Regions from separate parts of the Homo sapiens genome. Here region 1 is linked to region 2. The links come from fine-mapping of genetic effects on gene expression. A gene starts in region 2. The other region holds a variant in brackets. All regions are shown on one strand. Distances are from middle to middle.

Region 1 (16,564 bases), 38 kb before region 2:
AATTATCGGCCGGGTGCAGTGGCTCACATCTGTAATCCCAGCACTTTGGGAGACTGAGGCGGGCGGATCACAAGGTCAGGAGATGGAGACCATCCTGGTCAACATGGTGAAACCCCATCTCTGTTACAAATACAAAAATTAGCTGGGCGTGGTGGTGCATGCCTGTAGTCCCAGTTACTCGGGAGGCTGAGGCAGGAGAATCGCTTGAACCCAGGAGGCAGAGGGTGCAGTGAGCCGAGATCACACCACTGCACTCCAGCCTGGTGACAGAGCGAGACTCCATCTCAGAAAAAGAAAAAAAAGCTAATTCTTCACTCAGCTACATGTGGAAAAATACCATTCTTCCACTATTTAAATACTTAGTCTGGTTGGGTGCGGTGGTTCACACCTGTAATCTTAGCACTTTGGGAGGCTGAGGCGGGCGGATCACCTGAGGTTGGGAGTTCGAGACCAGCCTGATCAACATGGAGAAACCCTGTCTCTACTAAAAAATACAAATTAGCTGGGTATGGTGGTGCATGCCTGTAATCCCAGCTACTCGGGAGGCTGAGGCAGGAGAATCGCTTGAACCCAGGAGGCAGAGGTTGCGGTAAACCGAGATCGCGCCATTGCACTCCAGCCTGGGCGACAAGAGCAAAACTCTGTCTCAAAGAAAAACTACTTAGTCTTCTTTATACGGAGTATGTGTTAGATACATGGGAGATACAAGAACAAAGTTTATTGTCTTGTGGAGCTTACTAGGTGACAGAGGGTGTAGTATACTAAGGATGTTGTAGCAAGAAGCCCAAAAGGAGGACAAACCAAGGCCTAGAAGGATTCACAGGGAGTACAGATCACATCTAGTTTGGGGAAGCTACAAGGAGATACTGCTTTTTGAATTGGTTCTCAATGAAGATTTAGGATTTCAAAAGGTAGAGCTGGGGAGAGGTCCTTCCAGCTAAAGAGAACAGTGTAAGCAAAGGTCTGGAGGCAAGAAGCACAGGGTTATTTTCAGGGATCAGCCGTGCATCCAAGTCTGGCTGGGCCTCAGAGAATGGCAGGTTGGGGCCTGACTGTGGACAGCCTGCACTGTCCAGCTAAGGAGTTTGACATTCATTTAGTAGGCTTTATGGGACCAACTTCATTACCTCAGCTTTCTTATCCCATTATCCGGCTAAACTTTCATGTGGAAATAAAACCAGTAAAAGAGAGTAGGCCAGCGTACTAAAGTCAAACAACTTCTCCCATGAGATATATTTCGTGTAACCAAAAAAAGTATGTAAATTAGACCTTAATAATTTTTTTAAAAATATTGACTGCTTTCCTAAGATCTTTAAGAAGCAGCTAAACTGTGGCCATCTAGCAGTGACAGTCTGTCTTAGGAACACCCTGGAATCCTAATGAAGTGACAGGGACTGGCACCTCTCACAAATAAATGGCTCATGGTAGGTTTGATGAGAGGAAGAAGGAATACCTTTTTCCACAACACTGATATATTCTCCTCTTCCTCCTTTTATCCTTAGGGCAGGCACTAGAGAAAGTCAAGGCAGATACTCCCCTTTCAAATCAGGCTGAACCACTGTCCCAGGACGGAAGTCCTACACATGCAAGGCCCACATGACATAGCAACCAACCATTTCAACCTGACTCAAAATTAGAGTGAGCATGAAAAAAAAAAAAAAAAAAAGCAAAAGGTATTTGTCTCTTAATACCTAAAGAAAGGCCGCAATTAACCAACTGCCACCCTGGTCTCATTATGTGTGTGCTTGTGTGTGTGCACATGCGCACATGCATGCATATCTGTGTGTGTTTCAGCTTATCTGACAAGATAATGTGTTGGGAGAGTAGAAGGAAGTCTCAAAAACTCATATTCCTTCTGTACTTAAGATAAAAATAATTTCATTGAGGCCTCCAAGTTAGGGACTGGTCACATCAGAGGAAAACACTGTGCCATGAGAGAATAAAATTCATGGAAATATATTACCATCCCCAGCCTGAAGTCACAGTGCTTGATGTACAAGAAAGATGATCTGCCCCTGAATATGTTACTTCTTAGTTATGGCCACATATCTCTACGAAGCCAGGGAGAGCCAGAGCCTGGGTATTCCTGGAACTTTTCAAACATCAACGCCAGGCCAGAAAAATATTACATTCTTTAAGAGCAAGGGAAAGAGTGTAGCCCAGGGAAAATGTGACATGTAAAAACAAAGTGATGGTAGGCTACAAAACAGCTTTCCAGAGCTGTCATACCACCATGAAGAGCAGATGCAACTTCCAGGGGATGTGCAGGTTTGAGTTCTTGAGCTCATCTTCAGCACTCTAGCTCTCAAGGCTGCTGCTTGTCTCCCTAAGGAGAAAGTGTTCCCAAAGGTCTTGAAAGACAATGTTGTTTAAGAGGTGACCTTTAAAAATATCCTCGAAGGGATGCATGCACCCACCCACAGGGATAATGTACGTGCTCTAGAGGACTTTGTCCAGTCTTCCTTTCAGCTGGGTCCTCTCTGCTGGATGGAAAAGCAAGAATATAACCAGCTCAAAGTAAACAGATTATCAGGCAAAAGTCCTTGCAGTTGAGATCCTAAATTGTGAGATTTGGGTTGGAAAGATCCAGAGAAATTATAAGCACTTGGCACAGCCACCGTGATGTCTTAATGAACCGGAACGCAAAGCAAATGGTAACTAAGAAGGAAACTGGTCAAGCAGGTTTCTCGATGCAAAGCAAATGAGCATTTTAGCGCTATAGCCTCAAAGGCAAGGGGTTGCTTCTGCTAAAATAACCTAGTATTGTGCCCACCTCTCTACCTGTGGCTCGAGCCATCTGTCTATAGCCTGAGATGCTCCGTCAGTCCCCTCACCCAGCTCAGCAACTCCTCTGAGGCCCAGCCTAAGTCTCTCCCAGCTTTGTGATCCTGCCCACTCCAAATTTCATTCTTCTAAATCCATACTGTATTTGCTACCACATTTGGCAGCAACCTTTCTTTATATTTTCTACTTATTGCTATTTAATTCTTGCAAGGTTTTTTTAATGTTTCATATTACACCGCCAAAGTGGAAGCCCTTTGAAAACTGAGACCATGTCTTATGCTTCATGTGGGATTCTGAATCCTTGTGAATGGTGGGTGAGACCTAGCTACAGGGGATGGAGTGTCCACAGAAGACCCTCCCAGTTACTCCCTAGTTTCTAACCCTGAGAGTGTTCCCTCCCATAGTAACTGGGGCCTAAGATATCACTTTATTCCTTTGGCCAGAAAGTACTGGATAAAGGGCACACATTATTTGACAACTAAGCAGCCCATCCCTTGCCCAGTCTGTATAAAGCATGCACAGAAAGTTATAAAGCAACAGTCACTCATCAGCCCTTGACCTTAGTAAGAATTAAATTTCCAGCAGCCTCTGAAGAGCAGCCTAACAGCACAAACCCGAGCACTCAGACAGGCACAGTGTGGGTCAACACAAAAGGAGTGATCGGGCCTCCCTGGTGTATCTTGAAGAAAGGTGCATGGAGAGCAGGTTAAGAGCACCTTCCTCCTTTGTCTGTCTCAAAGTGTCAGGCCTTATGGCAATTATGATGTTGGAGAGGCATTCAAGGACCAATTAGCCCGCAATGAGCGACTGTTTGGGGCTCACAGCACTTGCAGATGATAGGATGAGCTGAGGGATTATGAGTGCAAGCCCAGGACTAGTGTTTGGGAATAGGTAGTTCTAGAAATCACTGATGCAGGAAGCTCTGCCCCACCCTCTGGTAGCCCTGAACACTTACATACATTATTGTTGCTTTTTAAAATACATATTATCCCCACCCCCAAATTCTATCAGCTAGTGAAGCCTGCCAATATTTCCCCATTGGCATCTTAATACACTATTGAAACTCATTAACAAGCAAGACCAAGTCAGGCTCCACCAAGCACCACCCTGGGCAAAGCAGAGTAGTTGCACAATTAATGTCTGCTTGTTGACAGGAATGAGCATTCTCCAGCCTTCTTTAATGAACAAGCCAATATGTCTGACATTGTTTCTTGAATCAAGACTACAGATGCTCTAACATGATTTCCTTCCTAAGACGACTGAGATGGCAGATGGCCAGTCAGGAGGCCAGGACTCCCAAACTACCTGAATGCCATCCTATGGCTGCAAAGAATGCAGCCAGGCTAGCCCGAACGGACTTTCAAAAGCTATTTCTACAACTGTACTCTTGAGCCTCTTGGCAACCTTTGGAGCACAAGGGTCTTTGCTTTACTCATTCAATAAATTAAATTAAATTAAATTAAATTAAATACAAGTATAGAACAAGGTCATCCCTGGAACTCTAACTTACTCAGTGTCTTTGTACTGCCTTCACATCAGAATGGTCTGAGTTAAACACCTACCCATCCCAACCCTAAGCAAGAAGTTCAAGAGAGGTTTATTTCTGTGGACTCTTCCAGTGGGCAAGGCAAATCCTCCAGCAGAGCAAAAGCCCTAGGCTGGGCAGACTGAGGTGCTGTGCTTATCCCGGTCATCTACTTAAGAGATAATTCTAGCATAGTGAAGTGTGAGGAAGGTCCTTCCAAATAAGTCACTGATGACTTTAAAATCAAATTTCATTCTCCAAATACTGCTCTCGTTCCTTCTTCCTCCTGCTCCCTGCTCTACAAACCCCACGTCCCCTGTGGTTAGTACAGCTGCAGCTCCCTAGGGTTTCACCTGTTAGAGCCTCTGTTGCAGCTCTAAGAGAGTGTTATTTACTTCAAAATAGCTTTGCAAACACATGTACACCAAAGGGAGATAGATACTCAGGGGAGGGGAAGGAAAGCAAAATAATCATGTCATAGGGAAAGCGACAGCAAAATAATCAGAGGTGACACCCAAACTGAAAAAGGGTTCCCTCACTTTAACCACCTGCCGCTTAAATCTTTTCTGGGTAGATGGCGAACTGCCAGAGGGCAGGGACCATACCCGCTGCTTCCTTGAATATACCCTGCAACTGTGCCCAAATTCTTAGCCTTGTGTTTTACTGCTTTCTACATAGTAGGAGCTAAAGTAAGTGTGATGTTTATTTTTTATAATTTTTTATAGAGACAAGGTCTTGCTCTGTTACCCAGGACGGAATACAGTGTCATGATCATAGCTTACTGAAGTCTCAACCTCCTGGGCTCAAGTGATCCTCCTGCCTTAGCCCCCTGAGTAGCTGGGACTACAGACACATGCCACCACACCTGGCTAATTAAAAACTTTTTACTTTTTAAGAGTGGGGCTCACTATGTTGTGCAGACTGGTCTCGAACTCCTGGGCTCAAGCAATCCTCCTATCTTGGCCTCCCAAAGTGCTGGGATTACTGGTGTGAGCTGCCACACCCAGCCTTGATTGCTTGTTAAAAACATATATTTTCCTGGGCAGGGCGCGGTGACTCATGCCTGTAATCCTAGCACTTTGGGAGGCTGAGGTGGGCGGATCACGAGGTCAGGAGATCAAGACCATCCTGGCTAACACGATGAAACCCTGTCTCTACTAAAAATACAAAAAATCAGCCGGGTGTGGTGGCAGGCGCCTGTAGTCCCAGCTACTCGGGAGGCTGAGGCAGAATGGCGTGAACCCAGGAGGCGGAGCTTGTAGTGAGCCTATATCGCGCCACTGCACTCCACTCCAGCCTGGGCGACAGAGCGAGACTCCGTCAAAAAAAAAAAAAAAAAAAAAAACACCACACATGTATTTTCCCAAACCTGATGAATCCAAAGCACTAGAAAAGGAGCCTGGGAATCTGTATTTTTACTAGCATTCCAGCTGATTCCTATGAGGAAGTTGGGGAAACACTGAAAGAACCACACTTTATAGTCAGAGCAACCAAGTTCAAGTTCCAGTTTTTGAACTTCTTAGCTATCTAACTGGAGTCTCAGTTTTCTCATCTGCAAAATGGGAATCATAATATCTACTCTGTAGGATTATTAAAGGGATATTAAAAGCCATTTAAAGAGAATAACAAAGGTCTTGATGAACAATGTGTTCCCTAAATGTTTGTTCCCCTTTATCTTGAAGACACTGAGGAACTAGTGAAAGCTTTTGAGCAGATCATGTTCAGATTATTGCTTTAGTTTCAACCCCCTCTGCAATACCCAGGCAAATGGTTGCCCAGCCTCTTCTGTAACACCTTGAGTGACTAAAGATCGAATTTACTATATCCGGAAGCAGTCCATTCCATTTTCAGACAGTTTTAATCATTAGCTCTTCCTTCCTTATGTTGAGCAGAGATCTGCCTTGGGTGACAGAACAAATCTAATCCCTTTTCCACATGATAGGGTGAGGCAATTAACTTAGATAAGGAAAGTACATGCCGCTTGTTTGAGGCGCTGAGAGGGCAGTTTTATTTATGCACATGTCCAGCAAGTAGTAGATATGCAGGTCTGTAGTTCAGTAAAGAGATCAGGAATGTCATTTATACGGCAGGATTTGAAGCTGTGAAAATAAATGACATTGCCATTTAGGGGGGCAGAGCTAATGAAAGGTATTAAGGAATGGTAAGCAGGGTAGAAAGAGAGCCTTTAAAGAAGAAAGCAGGTAATTCATGGAAACAAATGTGGTGAAGAGGTCAGAACAATGTCAGAGAACCAGTGAACCAGTCACTAAATTTGAAGACTAAGAAGTCACCCACTGATCCCTGACAGAGAGTCAGGTTTCTGCTCCCCTGGAGCTTTCCAGAGCTGTTCAGAGCCACACTACCACACTGAAAAGCAGATGCACGCTTCCTTTCGGGCTAGTGAAAGAGAAGTGATTTGAAGCAGCAGCAAGTACTCCAACATTTCCCAACCTGGATGTTGACATAGGTTTCTCAAATAAGGCTCCCACGCTCTATCTTTTGGGGAAACACTGCCTAGTACAGTCCTTCCTGGAGATTAATCACAGGAAAGAGCCCCATTTTCCTCTGTTTAAGCCTGCATTTGCCCAACTTACTAAACCACTGATTTTTCACACAATACTTAGTAATATCTTGAGGAGCTAGTGTTTTCTGGCCAATAATTTGGCAAATGCAGTAAGCAAAGGGATACAAGACAATAGTTTAAGGGACTATTGGTATCAAGGGATATTTTCTTCTTTTTAAGAATGGAAGAAGCTTAAATATGTTTACATGCTGAAGAAAAGGAACCAAGTGTAGAGTGAAGGGCCAAAATCAGGAACAAAAGGGAAGAGAGTAAGCCAGGTTCTGATAAAGGGGTTAGCTTAGCAAAGGGCCTCAGCTCAATGCTTTAGCCATAAGACATTAAGTGCCCCTGATTAAATCTAGTGATCACAAATGGTTACTATTTTCCTAACCACATCTACTTTCCTCAGAGGATACAGATAATTTATCTAGAGAAGGTTACGGGCAGATTATATAAACTGATTCACTAGACACAGTCATGGTCTCCACCCTCGCCCCAGAGTTAAGCTAAGTGTATCCCTTTAATTCCCTTGCCTGAGCCAGGGAAGAGTGCTCCATATCGGGAGCCAATGTCCCACTCCCCCTGCCCAGGCAGAGAGAACTCTAACACAGGATAGGCGGAGAGGGGAAATCTAAAAATAAAGCTCTCCAAAGAAACTGTCTTGCCTAAAGAGCAGCTTCCCACGCACACTGGAGTGCCACATCTGCGGGGGCTGGAAGCACGGAACGGAACAATCCTGACCAAGTCATATAACCATTACCTATTTTGGGGGGTCGACAGTGCATTTCTGATTTCACCCATCAGCACCCCAGTATCCAGGCTGCAGACTGGGAGCAAGGGCTTTAGTGACAGAAAACAAAACTTTCCTTTCCGGGGAATTGGAAAAATGACCAGTGACTAGTCCCGCCTTCCTACCATTCTCCCTTCACAGCGGGAGGTAAGCATAGCACATGCTTTCAACACACAAGGGGTGGAGTTGAGGGTTC[A/C]CATTAGGAAAGATTGTGAAGGGTTCTAGTGGGCTTCAGGCTCAGAGATGGGCTCCTTTAGCTCCACTCCCTGCGGTAGAGTCAGGGACCACCAACTGGGGAAAAAGAAAAGCAAGCACCATGAGAAAAACTGCAATTAGCGTTGACATCCCTTCACTATTGTCCTCTCACACCCCAAGGACAGAGCAGTTGTCACGTTGCCAAGCAACTAGCAAGTGCAACTTCCCAGCCAGGTATCAGAGGCCACTAGAAAAAGTTCAGCCCAAGAGTTTGATATGACCCCACACCTAAGCATTAAACACAATACTGTAGCAACTTCTGGCTCAGGAGAGTAATCCCCACCACCTTTCTCTAAGGGCTTTAACCTTGGAGGATACAATGTACTTGGCACCAGATTTTGGAGTTTTGCCAAGAAGCCAAAGCAGGAAGAAGGAAGCTATCCCTAATTCTATGAGGAGTCCACAGTATTCACTTGGCACTCCAACTCCCCAGGAGATTTGTACTTTGACCTGACAAAGTATTAAGCTATGCCTCAAGGGTCAGAGAAGCTCAACCTTGGAAATATCTTGGAATAGCTTTCAGCAGCAATATACTCCATGCTACCTATCTGTTCCCTCCACCCCCTCCCTCTTCCTAGGGCACATACACTATACATCCCATGATTCATAGATACAGCAGACCAGTGCAGCGGGTGGTGAGGGGGGAATGGAATCACAATAAAACATCCAGAATGCAGCAACCTGTCAGTTCTTTGGTCTCTTAAAAGAGATCCTGTACCAGAACACTGCGATAGTTGCTATGCTCAGATACAAATCCTGATGTCTATTATGCATACATGGAAGGGGATGGGGGGGTGGCAAGTTTCCCCTCAAAGCACAGATTGCAAGCAAAGTACTTTGAACATTTGACTGATATTTGAATGCTGACTAGCAACAATCACCCAACAGTCTTTTACAATTAGAGCAAACTGAAATTTTCCCATACTGAGTCATTCATGAGCTAAAAGGAAGAAGCCAGCTCACAAAAGGGAGGAGACACTGACCATAAAATACACAACCTAAGCATACAGTGAGAAGCGTTATTTTAGAACTGGGAGTACATACTCCCTAGCCCACTAGTTAAATAAGAAGGGCTGGGTTGGCATGGAGCTCTCCTCGTCCAGCACAAGGGCTAGTGCTCTGAAGGGCAACTTACCTGACATACAAGGACCTCTTTTCACTTGTTCGGAGGGACCCAGACCCAGAGCTCATGCTGCTGTTCATCATTTGTTCTCGTAAGTCATGTATCTTCGATTCAAAGCGACTGTATTCTGTCACGGAAACAAGGGAAAAGATGGGAAAAGAATGAACTCAAGGAGCGCCTCTGAGCTTGCATGCCAGCAGCCAAAAAGCCAGAAGGCCCCTTGGCTTAAAAGCAGCCAGAGCCAGCCCACTCAGTCTTTGCTTTGATAAGCAAAGTCCCTCCTCCTAAGCACAGAAAGACAGACTTCCCTTCAACCCCAGACTAACAGAAGGAAAGAATGCACCTGAAAAGGGAGTAGCATTTGGGCAGGTCAAATGCACAAAGCTCTTATCTGCCTCAAAATGTCACTGATCCTTTATAAAAATAACAACTGGAAAGAGGTTCCAGTGCAACCTTTATAAATCTTTAGAGCTGACACTAAGGCCCAAGGAGAGCAGATGGGAAAGGAGACTTTCCCAAAAAGCGGATTGCAGAGAACAGATGGCCCTGAGACGCAGAGCGGAGGGGCTGGAAAGGACCTGAGGTCAATTATATCATTGTTAGGCAAGAAGACAATTTTTTCAGGATGACTTTTTGGCTGGGGTGAAGGGGGGTGATATTGGAACCCAGTACAGAGGTAAAAACAAACAAACCTCACAACCGTAACAACCATATGAGGAGAATTAAAGCTCTCCTGAGTTATTTCCCTTTTAACCAATAGCCTCTTTGGCTTCAGTAGCATACATTAAAACATAAATTCTCCCAAACCGAGAAGTCGGCTGACACCTCTCACCTCCAAAATCATCCAGTCAGTGAGGTCATAAGTCCATCCCTAACCTTATAGCCCATTGAGACCATCACAACAGCTGGAAACAGCCTTATCACTCTGGAAATGTAATACAGGTTTATGCCGAATTTAAGAAAACCTGATACAAGAAAATTAACTCTAGCTGTACAATTATTATAAAAGGCTTTTTATAGGGCTGCTTTGCTGTGACATTCTCCTAGGACATTTAAAATACAATATTCACACTTACCAAACACACAATTACACATTTTCCAGGCCTATAATTGCCGCATAAAATGGGGTATATCTAAGGCCACAGGCCGTGGAAATGCTAGAAAACAGGCACACTTCACTATGACAAGCTGACTTTGAAGCGAGTCAAAATTTATACTAGGGGTTGAAGGTTGGGAAACTGCTTTAAAAAACAAACACACTTCCAGGGGAAAAAATTCCACAAAAGCAATTTCGTGCACCATAGAGGGCTGGCAAGAAGCATCCCCACCTAGTCCGTATGACTCTACAGGAGAAAACAAAACACCTGTTCCAGCACCTGACACTCCCCTTCCCTCTGCAAAGCAACCAGACTGACCTTCAACTGGGTGTAAGGGGAATTGCTAAAGCCTAAAGGGGAAGGAATGGAGTGAGGCAAATAACCTCCTCTCAACAAAGTTTCTTTTGTTCACTGTGATATCAGTTTAACCAACGGGTTAAATTCGTGTGCTCTTTCATTCATCACACGCCGGTGTTATGGTGATTTGTCCTCATTACCTACTCCTGTTCCTGAAATCCTGGAGGAAGCAGTTAAGTCACTGACTCACCCATTAAACGTTGCGGGGGGTGGGGTGGCGGAGGGTAGAGAGACAACAGCTGGACAATGTTCCTGTTCTGAGGGTTACACGGCAAGCCATCAATATCAATGAGGTGCCCCAACCTAAGCCCTGGACTGTCCTAGAGCATAACAGCAGGCCAGTCTACCTCTGGAGACCGCCTGGGTGCTGGCCCCACCCCAGGGCTTGGCCCTCTACACTGGGTGGGGATTGTTTCTCATTTGTTCCTTTCTGGCCCTCCTCTGAGCTCACCGGCTATGGGCAGAACCGTGTGAGACAAAGATTTCTGACCAGGCAGCCCTTTCTTAGGGGAAGATAAGTCAAAGAGAGAAAGAACTATGCATTGAACTGTGAACAAAAAAGTACACCCAATCTATCTTTAAGCCATGTTTTCCCCTTCTTGAAACTTGTTTATATATTCCCTTCTTTGGAATCGACTTGCCCGCTGAACTCCAACTTAGCAGCAGGTCATGGCAGTTGCTTAGTAACTACATTTCTTTAAAAATCCTTTAAAAAACAACCACGAAACCACCATTTCCTCAAAGCTCCTAATCCAAGGCTGATAATTCTGGGCCAGAGGGCCCACTTAAAATAGACTACAGAAAGAGAACAAAGCTATTGCTCTAAGGCATACGCTTTTTGTTTTTACATGTGCTGCTAAAATTTCAAGTTTATTAAATTGTGTTTTATTCACTTTTTTTTCCATTTGGATGATTCCCTTAGAGTTCCAGCTGCCCATCAGTCTCTGGCTTTTATTTGTAGATTTATCTAAAGTCTACTAGGCAGAGCAGCCTTTGAATAAATGATTGTTGGGTAAATGAGGAGCAAATTAGAAAACTGTGTCCAAGTTGACACTTCTATTCTTAAACTAATAAACTTAATGGTTTATTTAACTGATGGCTGCCAGCTTCACTGAGGGCTTAGAAAGGTGGTTAAGAAGCATTCACATTTACTTTTGTTCCCAAGGTTAATTGTTGGGAGCAATTGGGGTTTATTATTTTTAAACACCCTTTTGAGATGTTAACAACCCACAATAGGCGGCTGATTAACAACTTTTTACAACAAAGAAAAATCATTCTAACAAAAAACTGTTTAGAATAGACTTAGATACTACCTCATCTTAAATATTAGAGGTATCATTTTCCCAGGACAAAAGCTTCCCTTAAAAAGCATCTCAATTCTAAGACTTCAGGACTCGCCAAGCTCCCTCCTTCCCTCTGATTTGTCACTAACACAGCCATCGCAGCCAATGCTGGAGGACATCTCCTAGGCCAAAGTCACCGCCTAGGAAGCCCACCTGACCAGCCTCTAACCCAGAGGGCCCACTTCAAAGAAGCAACACTAAAATCTCAAGTCTACTAAACTGCTTTGTTTTTTCCCATTCAGATGAACCCAACTGTTTGTGACCCACAAAGATATCCAGTCATCGCCCTCTTTCCTTTTTCCCAGTTGCTAATCACAGAGAAACAAGTGGGAGGGGGCACAATCAGAAGTCAGTACCGAAGAAGGGTTTTGCCCCAGTCACTGACAAGTTGGGGTGCCTCTAAAAGATCAGGATTTGGCACCCCATCCCAGATACACAGAATCAGAATCTACTGAGCAGGGGCCCAGGAATCTGCATTTTAACAAGCATCAGTGTGATTCTGATAAAGTTTGGAGCTGCTGGTCTTAACTTACAGAATTGGATCCTGCAGTGTCTCTGAAAAGAAAGGTGGGGCCAGAGAGTGGATAAGCTCTCAAAAATAAAACTTGGTAATACAATTGCAAATCCTTCAGGAAAGGAAAGCCCTAAAGATGCCACAGTCTTATGTGCCTGCAAAGAAAGCTGCTGAGTTTACACTTTTTAAAAATTCTGTATCACTTCTCCATCCCACTCCCCAGAAGATACCACTGTTGGTATTTTTAGTATGTGTCCTTCCAGACTTACTTCCATGCATATATGGCTTATATACATGTACTCACAATTCACACGCAAGCTTTTTTCATTTTCTGATACATCATGAAAACTCATCCATGTTGGCCAGGCATGGTGACTCATCTGAGGTCAGGAGTTCAAGACCAGTGTGGCCAACATGGTGAAACCCCGTCTCTACAAAAATCAGCCAGGTGTGGTGGCCACACGCCTGTAGTCCCAGCTACTAGTGAGGCTGAGGCAGGAGAATCGCTTGAACCTGGGAGGCGAGGGTTGCAGTGAGCCGAGATCGCGCCACTGCACTCCAGCCTGGGTGACAGAGCAAGACTCTGTCTCAAACAAACAAACAAACAAAAAATCATCCATGTCAGTACACAGACTTCATTTTAATAGCTGCATAGGATTCCATACTATGGACAGACCATAATTTATTCAGTCATATTTCAATTGATACACATTTAAGTTGTTTACAATTCTTAATATTACAATCAATGCTGCATTGTGTATTTGTGGGTTTTTTTTTGTTTTTTATATTTTATTTTTTGTAGAGATGGGGGTCTCACTATGTTGCCAGGCTGGTCTCGAACTCCTGACCTCAAGGAATCCACCTGCCTCAGCCTCCCAAAGTGCTAGGATTACAGGCATGAGCCACCATGCCCGGCCTGCACTGTATATTTGTTTGAGCATTTCTGTTGCATAGATTCCTAGAAGTGAAACTGCAGGGTCAAATTATATGCAAATTAAAATTTTTGATTAGCACTACCAAATTGAACCCCAACATCCTGAAACCTTTCTGACTAAGGATAAACTACTATTCCACTCTTCCAGCACTTTTTCTGTTTCTGAAGTGGAGGCAGAATTTACCTTTGAGGACAAATTGATCTTTTGTTTGGAGAAAAACAGTTTAATGAGCCTTTTGGTTATGCAAAAGTAAAGATTTTATTCTGGAATGGACAAAGAGGAGCTAAAATGTTGTCTGCATTATAATAGAAAAGGTGTCCTCTTGGTGAGTGGAGTTGCTGGTTCTCCAGGTTAGGCCTTAGTCCACAGGTCTTTCTCTCCCTCTTTCCCTGGCCCTGTTTAACCATGAGTTAAGACGCTGTTCCACCTACATGACACTATATCTACCTCTATAAGTATCTACCTAATTTGACTACATTAAATCTGCCCCCAACTTGAAAACCAAGCCTTTTTTTTCCTCATGCCAAACCCCCATTACTGTAAACGACACCCCCTTTTCCCTGCATACAACCAGTGTTTCCTCAAATTTTGCTGATGTTTCTTCCTAATTGCTTCCTCAATCTATTTCTTTATACTTTTAATTGTCATTGCCGTACTGTTGATTTCGTGTCTTAATTTTCCCTTGACTATTTTATTATCTCTTCTCTGGGCCACTGCTGTACCTCCCTAACTGGTCTTCTGCCCCAAGGCTTTACAAACTCAATCCAGATTAGATTCTTATTTGAAAAGCTTTCCTAAAGCTTGAATTTGTAGCCCCCCTGTCCAAGTATCTATAACGACTCAATGAGCACTAAAGAATTTTACTTTTACTATGTCAGCCAAACTTTCAAGGACTGCTACAACCATCCTCCCATCACAGCCAGCCTATCTATCCCACATCTGAATTACACAGGTCTTCTTTTGAGCTAGCTTGCCTGGACCCCTTGAATACAGCTTGTTCAGTTCTACCTGTTATTCCCTGCTCCTGAAACATTTCTCCCCTGCCTGACACTGAACAACCTTTACATCCTTCACCATCTTTCCTACCTCATTCCAAGAAGTTTTATTCATTCATTTATTTATTCAAATATTTTCTAAGTTTGGGCACAGTGACTCACACCTGTAATCCCAATGCTTTGGGAGGCCGAGGTAGAAGTATTGCTTGAAACCAGGAGTTCAAGACCAGCCTGGGCAATATAATGAGACCCCAATTCTACAAAAAATTCAAAAATTAACTGGGCATGGTGGTGCACACCTATAGTCCTAGCTACTCGAGAGGCTGAGGTAGAAGGATCACTTGAGGTCAGGAGTTTGAGGCTGCAGTGAGCTATGATCACACCTCTGGACTCCAGCCTAGGTGACAGAGTGAGATGCTGTCTCTAAAAATAAAAAAAAATAAAAAAAAATTACTGAATGTCTACTGTGTATCAGGCATTGTGCTAGCTGCTGAGAATATAATGGTAATCAAAATGGTCCCTAGAAATTACAATTACAAAACAAACAATTATTTAATTACAATTGTGATAACTGTGATGAAGAAAATGCTAAGAGAGAGACTAATAGGGTGACTTAACCTACCTGTGGGAAGGGGGTGGAGTTCAACAAAGGTTTCCCTGAGGAAGTGACATTTAAGCTGAGTCCAGGGAAAGGGCGCTGGTGAAGAAAGCATTCCAGACAGAAGGAACAGCATTATGTAAGGGTACAAAATGTATGGAACACAGGAAAGCAAGGGGATACTGGCAGGAGATCAGACTAAGAGGTAAGCAGGGGTCAGATCATACAAGGCCTTGTAAACTATGGTAAGGTTATTTGCTTTTTTTTTTTTTTTTTTTTTGAGACGGAGTTTCGCTCTTGTCACCCAGGCTGGAGTGCAATGGCATGATCTCAGCTCACTGCAACCTCCACCTCCTAGGTTCAAGCGATTCTCCTGCCTCAGCCTCCTGAGTAGCTGGGATTACAGGCGCCTGCCACCACTCCCAGCTAATATTTGTATTTTTAGTAGAGACAGGGTTTCACCATGTTGGCCAAGCTGGTCTTGAACTCTTGACCTCAGGTGATCTGCCCACCTCGGCCTCCCAAAGTGCTGGGATTGCAGGTGTGAGCCACTGCGCCCGGACAGGTTATTTGCTTTTATCCTAAGATAAATTCTTTCTCAATGGAAAGAAGCCATTGAATGATTTTAAGGAACGGAAGGACATGATCAGATATGTGTGTCACTTTGGCTACTGTGGAGAGAATAAGTGAAGTGTCTTATATCTACATTTAAGTTTCTTGACAGACGAAGCACATGCTTTCTATGTTTGTGTATTCTCCACAGCCCCTAGTATAAGAAGCCCCTGCTCTTACAGCATCCAAACCAGCTAGCCCTTCAGCCTCTGCTCAAACATGTCCAATACTGGGAAGCTCTCTAATTCTTTTTTTTTCTTTTTCTTTTCTGAGACAGGAGTCTCGTTCTGTCACCCAGGCTGGAGTGCAGTGGTGTGATCTCGGCTCACTGCAAGCTCCGCCTCCCAGGTTCAAGGAATTCTTGTGCCTCAGCATCCGGAGTAGCTGGGATTACAGGTGCCCGCCACCACATCCAACTAATTTTTTTGTATTTTTAGTAGAGACGGGGTTTCACCATGTTGGCCAGGCTAGTCTCAAACTCCTGGCCTCAAGTGATCCACCCACCTCGGCCTCCCAAAGTGTTGGGATTATAGGCGTGAGCCACTGCACCCAGCCGAGAAAATTTTTTGGTTTAGCGCCATCCCTTCTGCCAGCTGGTCCTAATTTTCATGTCTAAAACAGCATAAAACATGATGGGTTCTTTCCTTCAAAACAGTGTGAAGGAATAGTTTAAAGAAGGTCAAAGAGTTGGAAAAGACTGGAACAAGACTACTGAATAAAATGGGAGTAGATGGCAGAGTGCAAACAGGGGAAGGGGAAGTAATGGTAGGTTGCAGGCCAGATTATAAGTGCTTGAGATAGCACTTCTCTTACTAGGCAATGGGAACTGCGTTTAAGTGTTTAAACAGGAAAGTAACACAATTAGAACTAGGTTTGAGGGAAAATTATTCTGGGAGTGTAAGACAGAATTGGAGGACAGAGAGAGAGAGATAACAGAGACCGGGAAGCTGCTCTACTACTACAGACAATAATTATAAAGGCCTGACATAGTATAAGGGCAATGAAGACAGAAAGAAGAGACAGGAATCAAGAAATATGTTGGATCCTTCAAAAGTGGAGAAAGACAAAAAAGA
Region 2 (14,191 bases):
AGGGGCCATGGCAGGCTGGGCACATTTGTCAGACACCCAGCCTCTGCTGATCATTTTGGGAAACCCATCCCCTCCCCAATTCCCCAGGCCTCAGTGAGCAAGGTCAATTAATATTTGTTAGTGGGTTGATTGATTGATGCAGTGAAGCAGCCTCTGAGGGCCGCTGTTTCACCATCCTCTAAATGCAGGTCCCCCCATGGGTCTTGAAACCATGATTCAGGGGTCTCCCTTATCCTGGCTCCAACCCTCTCCTTCCCTTTCCGCTTTTCCCCACTGGCAGACTCACCCTCTCAAGTACGATTTCCTCATATTTGAACATGCCATCACTGCCATTCACCTAGGGGGAGACACAGGCAGTTCCCTTAGTGCCCCCTGCCCTTCCAGCCATCTGCCCCTTAGTCAACCTGCCTCCTCCCCTACTCCCACAGAGTAGAAGAGCCCAAGTGCACCCCAGGTCACCTCTTGGCCACAGATGAGGACAGGCTGACCTGGAAGAGGCCGCTCCTCACTCACCCCACCAATCCCTGCTTTGCTTCCAACCATATCAGCCCAAACCAAGCTGCTCATTTAGCCCAGATCAATTGTCTGAGACTGAGCCAGCCAGTGGTGCACTCACCGAGAGGCTGTGCTTCAGTGTCTCAGGGTTCACTAGGAGGGGTGCAGGCCTGGCCTAAGGGGGATGGCAGAGATGGAGCATGGCAGGCAAACCATGCCACACCCAGTGTCCATAGGGGATACCCAGTGGCCTAGACAGATAACCCTTCCCCTTCTGAACCACAGTTCTCCCTGACTGGGGGATCATAGACTCCCACTGTGTCCGAACTGGAAGGACAGCAGACATCATCTTGTCCTATCCCCTTTATGTGACAGTAGGTGACACGGAGGCCCAGAGAAGACATGGGATGTGCCTAAGGGCACACTGGGAATTAGTGACAGAGCAATAGGATATCCAGGTGTTCTTTTGATTACAGTAAGCTCTTAAGGCCACTGATGTTTTGGTCACTCATCCCCGTACCCCAGCAGAGCTCATGGGAAAAAGGACAGTTGCCCCACTTTGGAGCACCTCGTGAGTCTTCACTCTATACCTCTTTCTTGGACTCCAGGAACCCAATTCCTCAAATAGGCAGAAGGAGTCAAAGTCCTAATCCATTTTCTACCAAAGGATTTTTGATTCTGAGCCCTTTGTTTTTCCCAGCAGAAAGGGCGAGGGTGGGATCTGGTCAGGAGTCAGAGACAAAGCCACGGGTGGGACTGGAGCAGGGTAGACAAGATTCCCCATGAGGGAGAAGTTGGTGACCCACAGGCTGATTGGCAGCAGAGTCCATGGTTTTCAATATGTAGTAGCCATGCAAGAAGAGGCAAGGGAAGGGGTCAGAAACACAGGGGTGATTTGGCCAACCCACAGAGATGGCCTCCCAGACAGGACATGTGTGTATCTATTTGTCAAGTGAAAATGTGATTCTGGACATACAAGCAGCACCTGCCTGCTGGCTCCCACTTTCACCTCCAAGAATGGAGAAGCCCTCTTGCCTGTCTCCCCAGGTACCCTGGCACCCCTCCCCCACCTTTCTCTGGCTATGTTGTCCCTTCCCTGACCTCTAGCCTCCTCCTCAGAAGTGGGGAGCTGGAAACCAGGGTGGGGGCTCCTCCACATGTCCTGCTGTGCTTCCCCCGTCCCACCTCCACCCCACACAGCTTTGGCTTCAAGAAGCAGAGAGGAGGAGAGGGAGAGAGGACTAGCTCATCATGCCTCCACCATTTCTGGGCTGGCTCTGCAGCTGTGGGAGTTGGTGGGAGGACTCCAGCTACAGCCTTACCCTGGTCTGTGACCCCAGGAAGAAGAACTGAAGGCTCCTTAGAGACCCGAAACCAACACAGCTGCCTTAAGTACCATGCAACAGACACATAAGCAAAGGGACACCCATGTGGCTCTTGTGTGCATTTGGTGTACCATGTGTGCCCACATGTGACAAGCCATGCCTCAAGCCCAGCCCCAGTGGTACCCAGAGGCTTCCCGTTCCCAGTGGTCCACGCTCTAGCCCCCACCCCTACTCAAGGACCTTGTTCTCAGGGCCAGGAGCCATCCAGGGATCAGCCCTGGCAAAGAAACCTTGGCCAACTGGCCCAGCCTGGGATTGCCACCTGTCTCCCAGCCGGGCAGGACAAGCATAAGAGGGTGTTTGCGAGAGAAAGGCCTCCAGGACAGAGAGGGGGCAAAGGAGAGAGAGGGACTCGCTGGAAAGGGCAAGAGGCCAAGGCAAGGGATGTGGGAAAGCAGTAAGTGTGGACAGACAGAAGGCCAGAACTGAGGGCTCTTCTCCCCAGGAAGTCCCCACCTTTGCCTCTGAGTGAGAGCACATCCTATCCCCAGAGGACAGAGGCAGCCAGAACGGTCACCAGCTTGGGGAAGTCATCACCTGCCCTCGACAGCAAAGCCTCCTCTTCCTCTCTCCCCACCCTAGGAGCTGCAGAGCCGGATAACCAGACAGGCCCTCCGCCTTGCGTGCCAGGGACCTGGCTCTGCCAGCCCAGCCTCCATTTTGCTGCTTCTCCCACAGATGCTCCTTCCATTTTCTAAGCTGGCAGTTTAGGCTGGGAGTGGAAGCCGGAGTTGTGCCCAGCACCCAGGGGCTCCCAAGCTGTGCCAAGTCAGGGCTGGGGGGCTAAGCCCTCTCACATCTGGAGGTACCCAAGGGGGACATGCCCCACTGGGGCCAGTCTCTGCACCAGGGCAGCTGCCCCTTGCCGGCTCCAGGCACCATGCCTGCTCTAGAGCGAGGAGGCTTGCTTCAGTTCCTTCAAATCTCCCCCCGCCCCCCGCCACCCCACCCCGGCACACACACTACAGAGCTGCTTGGACAAAAGAGTCCGTCCTTCTCAGCAGCCTCTCAGCCTTGCTTGGGACATGTCTCTCGCCTCCTTCCTCTCCCCTCCCTTGCCTGTCAAGCGCCTCTCACCAGAGACAACACATACAAACACACACTCACACACACACACCAGGCACACGCGTGCACACTCTTGCAGCCACATGCTCACACACATATACATGTAGCCACACACACAAACACAGCCATCCCTGCAGCCTCCTCTACAGAGACCTCTCCACATTCAGAGTGACATCTCCACACATCCATGTGCACATTCACACACAAAGGGACTGGGACGGAGAGGGACTCATGGCATCAAGGGATGAAGCTCAGCGAGCCGGGCACATGGGCTCCTCCACACGGATTCACGGCAGCTCCATTGCCTTCCTCCACACACCCCAACATACATACACACACATATGTCCCCCCTACGCAGAGCACCATGCCCCCTCCCCTCCCCTCCGGTGGAGACACACACCACACACAGCCCCCGCAGAACCTCCCGCCCCCTGCCAGACACAGAGACATTGCCAAACCCCCACACTGAGACAAACCCAATTCCCCCACACAGGAAAATGTGCCCCTCCGCCATGCCCTTACCCCCTGACACACGGCTCCTCCCAGTCTTCTAATGGAGACCCCCAAACAGACACACACAGGGAACCACACATTTCCCACCGCCTCTCTTTGCCCAGCTGCAATGCTAGGGCTCGGGGTCCACAGGCTTGGAGCCCCAGCGACCCCTACTGCATCCCAGGCCTCTAGGCCCCCACTCTCCAGCCCTCCTGGGTTGCCCCACCGCTCCCCCCTCCGCTGGTCCATACCTGCTCATACCAGTCCCGGTTGGTACAGGTGCACTCTGGCCACCAGCTGGGGCCGCTGCCGTTGAGTTTGGGGGTGCTCTTGCCCGGGACTGGCTTAGGAGGCACCGGCCCCACATCCCGGCCGGTGGGGATGAGCTTGGCCTTGGTGCGAGGGGTGGGGGTGGCCCCCGCCTGCGAGGGCAAGGTCTGCGAGCTGTAGCCCCCATAACCCGCGCTGGCGCCGTTGCCCCCACCTGGCCCGTAAGGGTCGGGGACTTGCCAGTCGCCGTAGCCCGGAGGCTCGAGGCGCCGCAGGGCGGCCAGGCGGGTCACCTCATAGCACTCAGGGCACTTACAGCAGTGCTGGTGCTTGTGCATGGCACTGCCCCCCGCGGCTCGGACCCCCCAGCCCACGCCGGATTCCACGCCGCCGCCACCGCCGCCACCACCGCCGCCGCCGCCGCCGGGCTCCCTGGCACACTCACACTGCTCGGACCAAGAAGGGGGGGGCACCCGTGGGGGCGCCCGGGCTGAGCGGGGCCTGGGGCCGGGCGGGCGTCCCGGGGCCTCGGCCCCCACGCTGCCCCGCACCCACGGCTCCCCCTCCAGCACTGGCGGCTCCGTGTCGCCCGTCGTGGCTTCTGGGCCGAGGCCCAGCGGCAAAGAAGAAGCGGGAGCTCAAGCAGAGAATGGGTGCTGTGAGGACCGCTTCTGCTCTGGTCCCCAGGATGGATCTGAGTGGAGTCAAGAGCATCTCTCCCTGGCTCCCTTCTCAGTTGATTCCAGCCAATCAGCGCGCAGAGGCAGGCAGCGGCAGCGGCAGCGGCGGCGGCAGGAATGCTAAACAGCGGCTACTTAAAGGAACAGAGGCAGCGGCGCCCCCAGGCTCAGCCCCAGCTCCCCCAATCTCTAGGGAACTGTTGGCTCTAAGGGCGGGGGCAGAGGACGTGGGCCACCAGAAAGCTCAGGCACCCGATCTTGTGCCCTTATATCGCCAGTTTTAGCCTGTCCTCTGCCCACTCCACCCCACCCCACTTCCAAGAGGGAGTTGCAGGGAGATGTTCAATGGGTCCCCAGGCTTGCTCTGAGCTGGGGCCACCAGAAGTAAAGACGAGGTAGCAGGATGGACAGAAAGGACGTTGGAGCAGGGTGAGGGAGGTGCTTTCTCTTACAGGGGACCAAAGAAGAAGGCAGCATATGAGGCCCGCTGTCCTGTCAATGCCTCCTACACAAGACTATTGTTCTCTCAGTCTCTAGGCCCTGAAATTACTGTGACCTCACACTTGACCTTCTACCATCACCAGTAAAGAACTCAACCCTAGAACAGGGATTAACAGAAAGCTCTAAGTCCTTGTCCCTGGCCCACAAACCCCTATCTCCTCCACTCCACCCCTGCATGGTTATGATGGGGGAAGGAACTTCAGGATATCAAGATGAAAGTCCAGGACAGGTGAAAAGGTAAGAAGGGATTTGAAGAGAGAGAAACCCTTCTATGGGTCTGGAATAGAGCTTAGGAATACTTGTCCAAGGACATCTCCTTACCCTCTCCTGGCTCAGCTTGTCGGGGGAATGGAGGAAGGATGACATACAAGAAAGACTATCTTTTTTGCAGTTCTTGTTTTGTTTTTAGCTACCAATTATTGGGTCTTTACAAAGTCCTAAGTGCATAACACGCAAACCCAAATCCTACCAAGCTGATGCTATTATTATCTTCATTTTACCAATGAGAAATTGAGGCTCAAAGATGTTAACACAGCTAGGTAACACAGCTGGAAGTGACAGAATCAGGATGCAAATCCTGATTATTTGACTCCAGAGTCCACGCTGTGAACCACTCTAGTACGACAGGTCTATTCTAAGTTCTCCTGCAGAATTTACATCTCAGTTCAATTCAGCAAATATTCATTGAGCACCTGCTCTGTGCAAGACCTTGACCTAGGTATTAGGGATACAGAGGTTCTTTTTTTTTTTTTTTTTTTTTTTTGAGATGGATTCTCATTCTGTCACCCAGGCTGGAGTGCAGTGGCGTGATCTCAGCTCACTGCAACCTCAGCTTCCCAGGTTCAAACGATTCTCCTGCCTCTCAGTCTCCCTAGTAGCTAGGACTACAGGCTCCTGCCACCACGCCCGGCTAATTTTTGTATTTTCTTAGTAGAGATGGGGTTTCATCACGTTGGCCAGGCTGGTCTCGAACTCCCGACGTCAAGTGATCCACCCACCTTGGCCTCCCAAAGTGCTGGGATTGCAGGTGTGATCCACTGTGCCCGGCCCTCAGAGATTCATTCTTAATTCAACAAATATGCGTGGAACACTTGCTGTGTGCCAGACACTGTTGTAGGATTTGGGGATATAGCAGGAAACAAAATAAAACAGAACAAACAGAACAAATCCCTGCCCTTGGGGAGCTTACCTCCTAGTGAGAGGACACAGACAAAAATAAACACAATAAATAAGTGAATTATGTAGTACAGTAGGTCCTCATTTAACATCATTGGTAGGTCCTTGGCAACTGGGACTAAGTGAAACAACGTATAACAAAACCAATTTTACCACAGGCTAATTAATATAAACAAGAGCTAAGTTCCTACAGCATATTTCTGGTCACAAAACATCACCCAGCTTCCAAATAAAGACCCAAAACACTTCTGATATTGAACATTGAAATAAATATGAGCTATGCATACATATAGAAAGATTAATGAAAACAAGTAAATAATTACCTAACCTTTGGTGAACCAGTGAGTGACAGCAGTGGAAGTGGTGGTGGGTTGAATCAAGGAATAAATGTATGCAAAGCGAAAATTGTAAGGAGCACCTCCCTACCACCATGCAGTTCAAAAGCAAACAATCACGAATATGGTGAGCTCGATGAGCACTTTCTTACCTCATAGTTTATTGTGCATTTGTATGATTATCAACTACTTGACAAATTTTTATTTTACAGTACTTTGTATCCATCCATCCATCCATCCATCCATCCATTCATTCATTTTTCAATCTGCTTATTTCAGTTCAGGGTCAAGGGTGGCCACAGCCTATCACAGCAGCTCAGGGTACAGGGCAGGAACCAATCCTGGACAGGATGCCATTCCATCACAGGGTGCGCTCACATACACACCCACACTCACTCACACTGGGACAATTTAGACACGCCAATTCACCTAACGTGCACTGGGATGTGGGAGGAAGCGCAGTACCCTGGAATACCCGAGAAAACCCACACATACATGGGGAGAGTGTGCAAACTCCACACAGACAGTGGCTCTGGCCAGGAATCGTTTTAGTTGTTTTTTTTTCCCCCTCATCAATGTTAAAACAAAATGATGTTGAAGAAAACAACATTATTCAGCATATACACCTGCTGTGTATATGGTGATAAGTGCCATGGAAAAAAATAAAAAGTAGAGCACAGTAAGATGGATTGGGAATGGTAGGGGAGGATACCAAGTTGTGATTTTTTTTTCAAGTTTTTTGCCCCCACAGTTTAATATGAAAGTTTTCAAACATACAGAAAAATTCAAAGAATTTTACAGTGAACATCCAATTACCCACTGCCTAGGATTCTCATTAACATTTTGCTATGCTTGCTTTATCATATATCTATCCTCCACATATCCTCTCCAACAGTTTTAAAAATGAAAATTTACAAACATACAAAAATATTGGAAGAGTAGTACAATGGACACCACTGTATGCCTTCCTTATCAAGTCGACAATTTGACTTGTTTTGATTGTTATATTTGCTCTGTCTATGTATCTATGTATCTATCCATCTATCTATATTTTTTAAAGAGTAGGTCTTGCTCACTCACTCAGGTTAGAGTGCAGTGGCGTGATCATGGCTCACTGCAACCTCAAACTCCCGGGCTCAAGCAATCCTCCCACCTCAGCCTCACAAGTGGCTGGGACCACAGGTGTGTGCCACCATGCCCAGTTAATGCTCTATCTATCTATCTATCTATCTATCTATCTATCTATCCCTTTTTCTGAACCATTTACATGTAAGTTTCATTACATGTAAATGGTTCCATTATTCATCTGTAAGTTTTGATAACTTCCTTTAGCCATTCTTTGTCTGCTGGCAACAAATTATCTTAGCTTTCCTTTGTCTGAGAATGTCTTGATTTCCCCCTCATTCCTGAAGGATATTTTCACCAGATATAGCATGCTGGAGTGCAGTGGTGTGACCATAGTTCACTGCAGCCTTGAAACTCCTGGCCTCAAAGTGATCCTCCTGCCTCAGTCTCCCAAGCAGGCTCCTCAGTAGGTGGGACTATAGGCGCACACCACTCCTGGTTAATTTTTTTATTTTTAGTAGAGACGAGGTCTCATTATGTTGCCCAGGCTGGTCTCAAACTCCTGGCCTTGGGTTATCCTCCCACCTTGGCCTCCCAAAGTATTGGAATTACAGGTGTTAGCCACTGTACCTGGCCACATTTGAATTCCTTTTCCTATGTAGGTAAGGTGTTGTTTCTCTCTTGCTGCTTTCAAGTTTCCCATCTTCAGTTTTCAGAAGTTTGATTATGATGTGCCTTGGGGTGAATTTGAGTTTATCCTATTTGGGGTTTGTTCAACCTCTTGAACCTGTTCATTTATGTCTTTTGCCAAATTTTCAGCCATTATTTCTTGAGTAATTTTTTTTAGCCCCATGCTCTTTCTCTTCTTCTTCCACATCTCCAATTATGTGAATGTTAAGTCCTTCGTTATAGTCCCAAGCATCCCTGAGGCTCTGTTCATTTTTTTTTCTTTGAGACTCTGTTTCATTTTGTCACCCAAGCTAGAATGTAGTGGCACAATCACAGCTTACTGCAGCCCCGATCTCCCAAGCTCAGGTGATCCTCCCACCTCAGCCCCCTGAGTAGCTGGGACTACAGGTGTGCATCACCACATCCAGCTAATTTTTGTATTTTTAATAGAGACAGGGTTTCGCCATGTTGCCCAAGCTGGTCTTGAACTCCTGGGCTCAAGTGATCTGCCCACCTCAGCCTCCCAAAGTGCTGGGATTACAGGCGTGAGCCACTGTGCCCAGCTCTGTTCATTTATTTTTTGTCTATTATTTTCTCATTGTTGTTCAGATTGGGTAATTTCTAATGTTCTATCTTTATGTTCACTGATTCTTTCCTCTGTCCTCTCCATCCTCCTTTTGAGCTCATCTACTGAGTTTTTTAGTTTGGTTATTATAGTTTGTTCTAAAATTTTATTTGATTCTTCATTATATCTCTTATTTCTTTGCCAAGACTTACTATTTTTTACATTCGTTTTAACCTTGTTTGTAATTGCTCATAGATTGCTCATAGAAGCATTTTTTTTAATGTTGGCCACTTTAGAATCTTTGTCAGGTAGTTGAAATCTTTCTCTTTCTCATTCAAATTGAGGGTCTCCTGGTTCTTGGTATAATGAGTGAATTTTTTTTTTTTTTAAGACACAGGGTCGGCTGGGCGCAGTGGCTCACACCTGTAATCCCAGCACTTTGGGAGGCCGAGGCGGGTGGATCACAAGGTCAGGAGTTCGAGACTAGCCTAGTCAATATGGTGAAACCTGTCTCTACTAAAAATACAAAAATTGCCTGGGCGTGGTGGCGGGTGCCTGTAGTCCCAGCTACTCAGCAGGCTGAGGCAGGAGAATCGCTTGAACCCGGGAGGCGGAGGTTGCGGTGAGCCAATATTGCGCCACTGACTCCAGCCTGGGCGACAGAGCAAGACTCCGTCTCAAAAAAAAAAAAAAAAAAGGACACAGGGTCTCACTATGTTGCCCAAGCTGACCTTGAACTCCTGGGCTCAAGTGATTCTCCCAACTCAGCCTCCTGAATAACTGGGACTATAGGTGCTGGGCTTAGATATAGAGTGATTTTTATTGCATCCTGGGAATTTTTGGATATTACAGTATGAGACTCTGGATTTCATTTACATCTTTTGTTTCTGGTAGGCTTCTTCTGACACGATTTTCATCAGAGGAAAGGGCCACTGCCTGGTTACTGCCGGGTAGAGGTTCAAGTTCAATTTCCCTCCTTGGTCTTGGTTGGTATGTGTGGTGGAGGCTTCTCCTTTCTACTGTGCAGGGGTAAAAATTCCAGCTCCCTACTATGCCTCTACTGATGCCTCTCTAGCTGGAAGGGGCAGAAGTGCCTTTTTACTGTTCCCCAGGTGGGCTTCCACTAACACCACAGTCAGGAGGTGGAGAGATTTTGGGAGGGGAGGAGAGGGAGGCTAATGGCCTCATCAAATGATATGTTGTGGTAAAAGTCCTGACTCACCACCAGGCTTCTCTGACACTGACACCACCCAACAGGAAGGGGTTCTTGTTACCCCTCAGGGATGGAAGTTTAGGCTCTCTACTCAGCCTTCTCTGACACTACCCCAGAGAGTACGGGGGAGCCTGGCCAGAGTGAAAATCTGGGTTATCTACTTGGCCTTTGCTGGCTTGGGTGCAGCTGCAGTTTTTTTTTTTTTTTTTTTTTTCTGTGGTGTGTGGTTGCAGTGGTGGTTATTGTCTAAGAGTTTTCTGTCTGGCTAAATTCCATTTCCTGGTCTTATGGCTAGAGAGAATAGGCCAGTTACTGGTGTTTGCATTTTTTTTGTCTGTGCCCATTGGCATTTCCAGGCTGCTGGCTTCTCCAGTACCTGATCTGGAATATTTGATACAACGAGAAAACCCAGGGAACTCATCACCTCGAGTTCAGGTCACTGGGGTTCCTAGTTAGTCTGCCCCCTTCCTCTTCTTTCATAGTCTTCTTATGTTTGTCTTATATATAATGTCCAGAGTTTTAGCTGTACTTAGTGTGAGGAATAGGGAGAAGTGTGTCTACTCTAACTGGGTCCATAACTGGAAGTCTTCCATCTTTTTTAAAAAATTAACTACATCGAGTTTTTGAAGAGTGCCAGTCAATTGTTTTGGATTTGTCTTTTTCCTCATGGTGTCATTTATCTCGTTCCTTTATACAGTACTCTCCCTCTTATTCATGGTTTTAACTTGCCATAGTTTCAGTTACCCATGGTCAACTGCAGTCTGAAAATATTAAATGGAAAGTTCCGGAAATAAACAATTTATAAGTTTTAAATAGTATGCCGTTATGTAATGAAATCTTGTGCTGTCCTGCTCCATCCCGCCCAGGATGTGAATCATCCCTTTGTCCAGTGTATCCACACTGCATACACTACCCACCTATAAGTCACTTAGTAGCCATCTTGGTTATCACTTCAGAATAATATAGTATATATAGGGTTTGGTACTATCTGCTGTTTCAGGCATCCACTGGGGGTCTTGGAACATATTCCCCATGGATAAAGGAGGACTATTGTACCCTGTATTTACTGTAAACTGGAAATTAAAATAGAGGGAATCTTAAATAGGTTGGTCAGGGTAGGCTTCACTGAGAACGTGGCATTTCAGCAAAGAATTGAGGGAGGTGAGGAAGTGAGCCATGCAGGGGGAAGCCAGTGCAAAGGTCCTGGTAAGGAGTGCAAAGGTCCTGGTAAGGAGTGCATCCGACTTGCTCAAGGAACAGCAAGGAGAATCAAGTGGCTTTAACAGAGTAAGGGAGGGGAGAACGCCAGGAGACGAGATCAGAGATTGAATAAGGGACTAGATTGTGTAGGACCTTGTAGACCACTGAAAAGATTTTGGCTTTCCTCTCAGAGAGATGGAGTGCCATTGGAGGGTTTCGTGCAGAGAACTGGCATGACGTGACTTGGGTTTAGCAGGATTGGTATAGCTTCTTTGCAGAGAATAGGCCACAGGGGCGAGGGTGGAAGCAGTGAGACTAGTCAGGCAGCTGCTGAAGTGATCCAGCTGAGAGGTGGTTGTGCCTTGGACCAGTGTGGTAGCACCAGAGATGATAAGTGGTTGGATTCTGGGTGTATTTGGAAGGGAGAGCTGACAGGATTTGCTGACAGATTGGATACAAGGTGTGGTTCCAAGGATTTTTTGCCAGGACAACTGGAAATGTGAAATTGCCATCAACTGAGATGAGGACAGTTTTAGGAGGGGTCATTTTTGGGGGAAAAGGTCAGCTGTTCAGAAACGAACATGTTGAGTTTGGGATGTTTGTTAGATGTCCAATTGGAGATGAACACAGGCCCTGCCACCAAGGTGCTCAAAGTGAAAGAAATGGAAATATGGAAGCAGATCATTACCATACCTGTGAAAAGTGGTATTTCAGGAGGGTGTACAGAAAAGCAAGTTATCAGTTCTGCTTGTTGGGGGGAAGGGGACTTAAGAAAAGTTTCACAAAGCAGATGATATTTTCAGTTTTGTCCCAAAGGGTGACTGGGCGTTCATTAGACAGAAAAAAGAAATGTATTGTTTTCTGTACTCCTAGACTTGGCACACAGTGATTGCTCAATCAGACCCAATCCAGTCACTATTTTTGTGAGTCTGGACATTACTTAACCTCTCTGAGACTTGGTATTGTAATCTGTGAAAAGGAAATAATCACAGTGTTCTTGTGAGGGTTAAATGTAGGACACTTAGCACACCACGTGGTACATAGTGGGTTAGTGTTAATTATGGTCATATGAATGAATGAATATCTTCCTTAATGACCAAATCTAGGCTAGGCTGGTAACCCAGGAGCCTAGTCTTTTATATGCTTAACAGTTTGTCAATAGAGATTGCTAGACTCCTTTCAACCTCTGAACTGCTCTGATTGAAAAATAAGCATTGATAAGCCTCGACTGAATGGAGAGGGTCAAACTACCCTCCTCAGGCCCCTTCCTTACCCCCTTTTTTGCCCTATCCCCTTTAACAGGTTCCTTCCTCCCTTCCTCCCACCCTCTCTCTCTTCATTTTTAATGATTGTGAGCAAAATCCCTTCAGACTCATAGTGGGCTTCTCCTCATTCCATAGGCTCCCTGCCGCTCAGACCGGACTGGGTTGACAAGGCTGGGAGGAGGTCAGCCACACTGAGACACTGTGACACTTAACTAGGGAACCTCCCTCCCAACTGCTAGGGCTCCAGCCTGAGACCCCAGGGAGACAGTCGCCCCCTACGGACCAAAAGCGCCCCACACCGCTGCAAGCAGCTCTGGTTGCTAGGCAACCAGGCGATGGAGGACTTCAGGAACGGATTTTCAAGCAGAGAGACCATTTATCTCCCCTTCCACCGCCACTCCGGCTCCTTCAGCAAGTAGACGGGGTTGGGACCGCGCGGTCTGCTGCTGTCTGTCTGATAAGCTGGGCTCATTCTTGAAAATAGAGCTTCACTGAGTGACCTCCATATTGTGCGTGGTGAAACGATCACTCTTGCCCCAAATGTGGTTTCATCTGGGGGCTGGAGACTCGGGTCGATGAAGGTGGAAGTTTCTGATTTGCAAGGAGGGGAGGAGCATTGTTGTGGGTGTGCACCCTTAGTCAATGGGAATTCTAGAAAATTGAGCTTGCGTGGGAATAATTTTGATCAGTCCATCAAGATTTCCTCACGATTCCCAATGTATACATTAGGAAACTCTTACGTTAGCCCATTAAAATAAAAAGGTCAATGGGAATGACAATATATAAAGGATCATTCATACCTCATTGGGGACAAGCAGTGGCTTTCATGAATACGGTTTCTCTCCAGACAAGGGAGAGATCATGAGGTCTGTAAATCCCTGTGAGTTGGGACAGAGCTCAACAAAATGGAAAGAAATAAAAAGAATGGCGGGGTTGGGGGTGTGATAAGCACAGAATCTGGCAGCTTCTGAGCTCTGTGTCTGGTTTGGGGATCCCCAGCTCTGTGCCCCCTGTGTTAGGACCATGCTGAAGCACTCCATCCTTATGAAGGCTGTGGGGGACCAGAAATCCATAGCTTTTCCTTCTAGTAACCTAGCATTCTGGCCCAGGAGTGGGTCCAGGCAGGCCAAGGCCATGACCAAAACAATCTTTCCACTTGGGACGCATCTCTGCCTTCTCGGCTAGTACAACAGAAGCTTGATTGTGGCAGAGCCCCAAGCCATGGCGAGCTTAGGGGAGAGCTGTGCCCAGGAGTCTCCTCGTGGGGTTTCCCTCAAGAGTTCCAAGGTAGAGATACCAGGGTGAGGTAACTAGCATCCAGACAGCATCTGGCCCAGCCACTGCTCAGTCCACATCTCCACAGGGCATAGTGGCAGGGGACGCTTCTTGCTCTCTGTGTTTCCAAACTGAACTGGGTCGGGGCTGTGCTCCTGCTCTATTAATAGCCCCCTAGCCCAGCCTGCTAGCCCCAAACCCGGATGCCAGGAGCTGTGAGTCAGCAGCTAAAAATAACGAAGAGCAACTACATCCGAACCCCAATGAGCAGCTCCCCCGGGTCCTCCGCCCTTAAGTTTTTGTCAGTGTCAGTCTCCAGCCCAGGGCCCAGGGCCTATAGGTTAAACCGCTTTAGCTGTCCAGTTCTCCTGGGAAGAGAGTGAGGATTTCCGGTGGCAGGCTCAAGGCTGCGTACCCAAGGCTAGGGGCTAGGAGAAAGGGGTCAGAGGCTGGCGCTGGGTTGGGGGGCCAGACGCTGGGTTTAGAGGGCCGCAGCTGAGAGTGTGAGAGCTGAGAGGTTGGGGCTGCAGGGATGGA

Which allele goes with the higher level. Alleles are on the strand shown, and positions count from the first base shown. SD is a standard deviation of normalised expression in the study named.
For the expression in thyroid of the gene that starts at base 4,415 in region 2, allele C in region 1 goes with a lower level than allele A (small effect, 0.15 SD a copy in GTEx).

What was found. PIP is the estimated chance that this variant, and not a neighbour inherited with it, causes the effect.
Region 1: its variant is fine-mapped to the expression of DLG3 in thyroid (GTEx, PIP 0.95).

What each region holds. Positions count from the first base shown.
Region 1 is chrX:70,471,753-70,488,316 of GRCh38, reverse strand. It overlaps DLG3 (discs large MAGUK scaffold protein 3), which reads right to left. Exons shown (of 19, transcript NM_021120.4): 10 at 9,053-9,167. Among named protein-coding and RNA genes, the nearest start is that of DLG3-AS1, 24 kb to the right of the region's middle. RefSeq lists enhancers at 7,764-8,265, 10,324-11,222 and a silencer at 12,748-12,867. The variant A/C (reference allele first, on the strand shown) is at 7,859.
Region 2 is chrX:70,435,059-70,449,249 of GRCh38, reverse strand. It overlaps DLG3 (discs large MAGUK scaffold protein 3), which reads right to left and starts at 4,415. Exons shown (of 19, transcript NM_021120.4): 1 at 3,692-4,415; 2 at 287-337. The coding sequence starts at 4,048. It overlaps LOC105373244 (a long non-coding RNA gene), which reads left to right and starts at 13,957. Exons shown (of 3, transcript NR_171576.1): 1 at 13,957-14,191. RefSeq lists enhancers at 4,111-4,897, 13,351-13,851, 13,839-13,918, 13,939-14,038.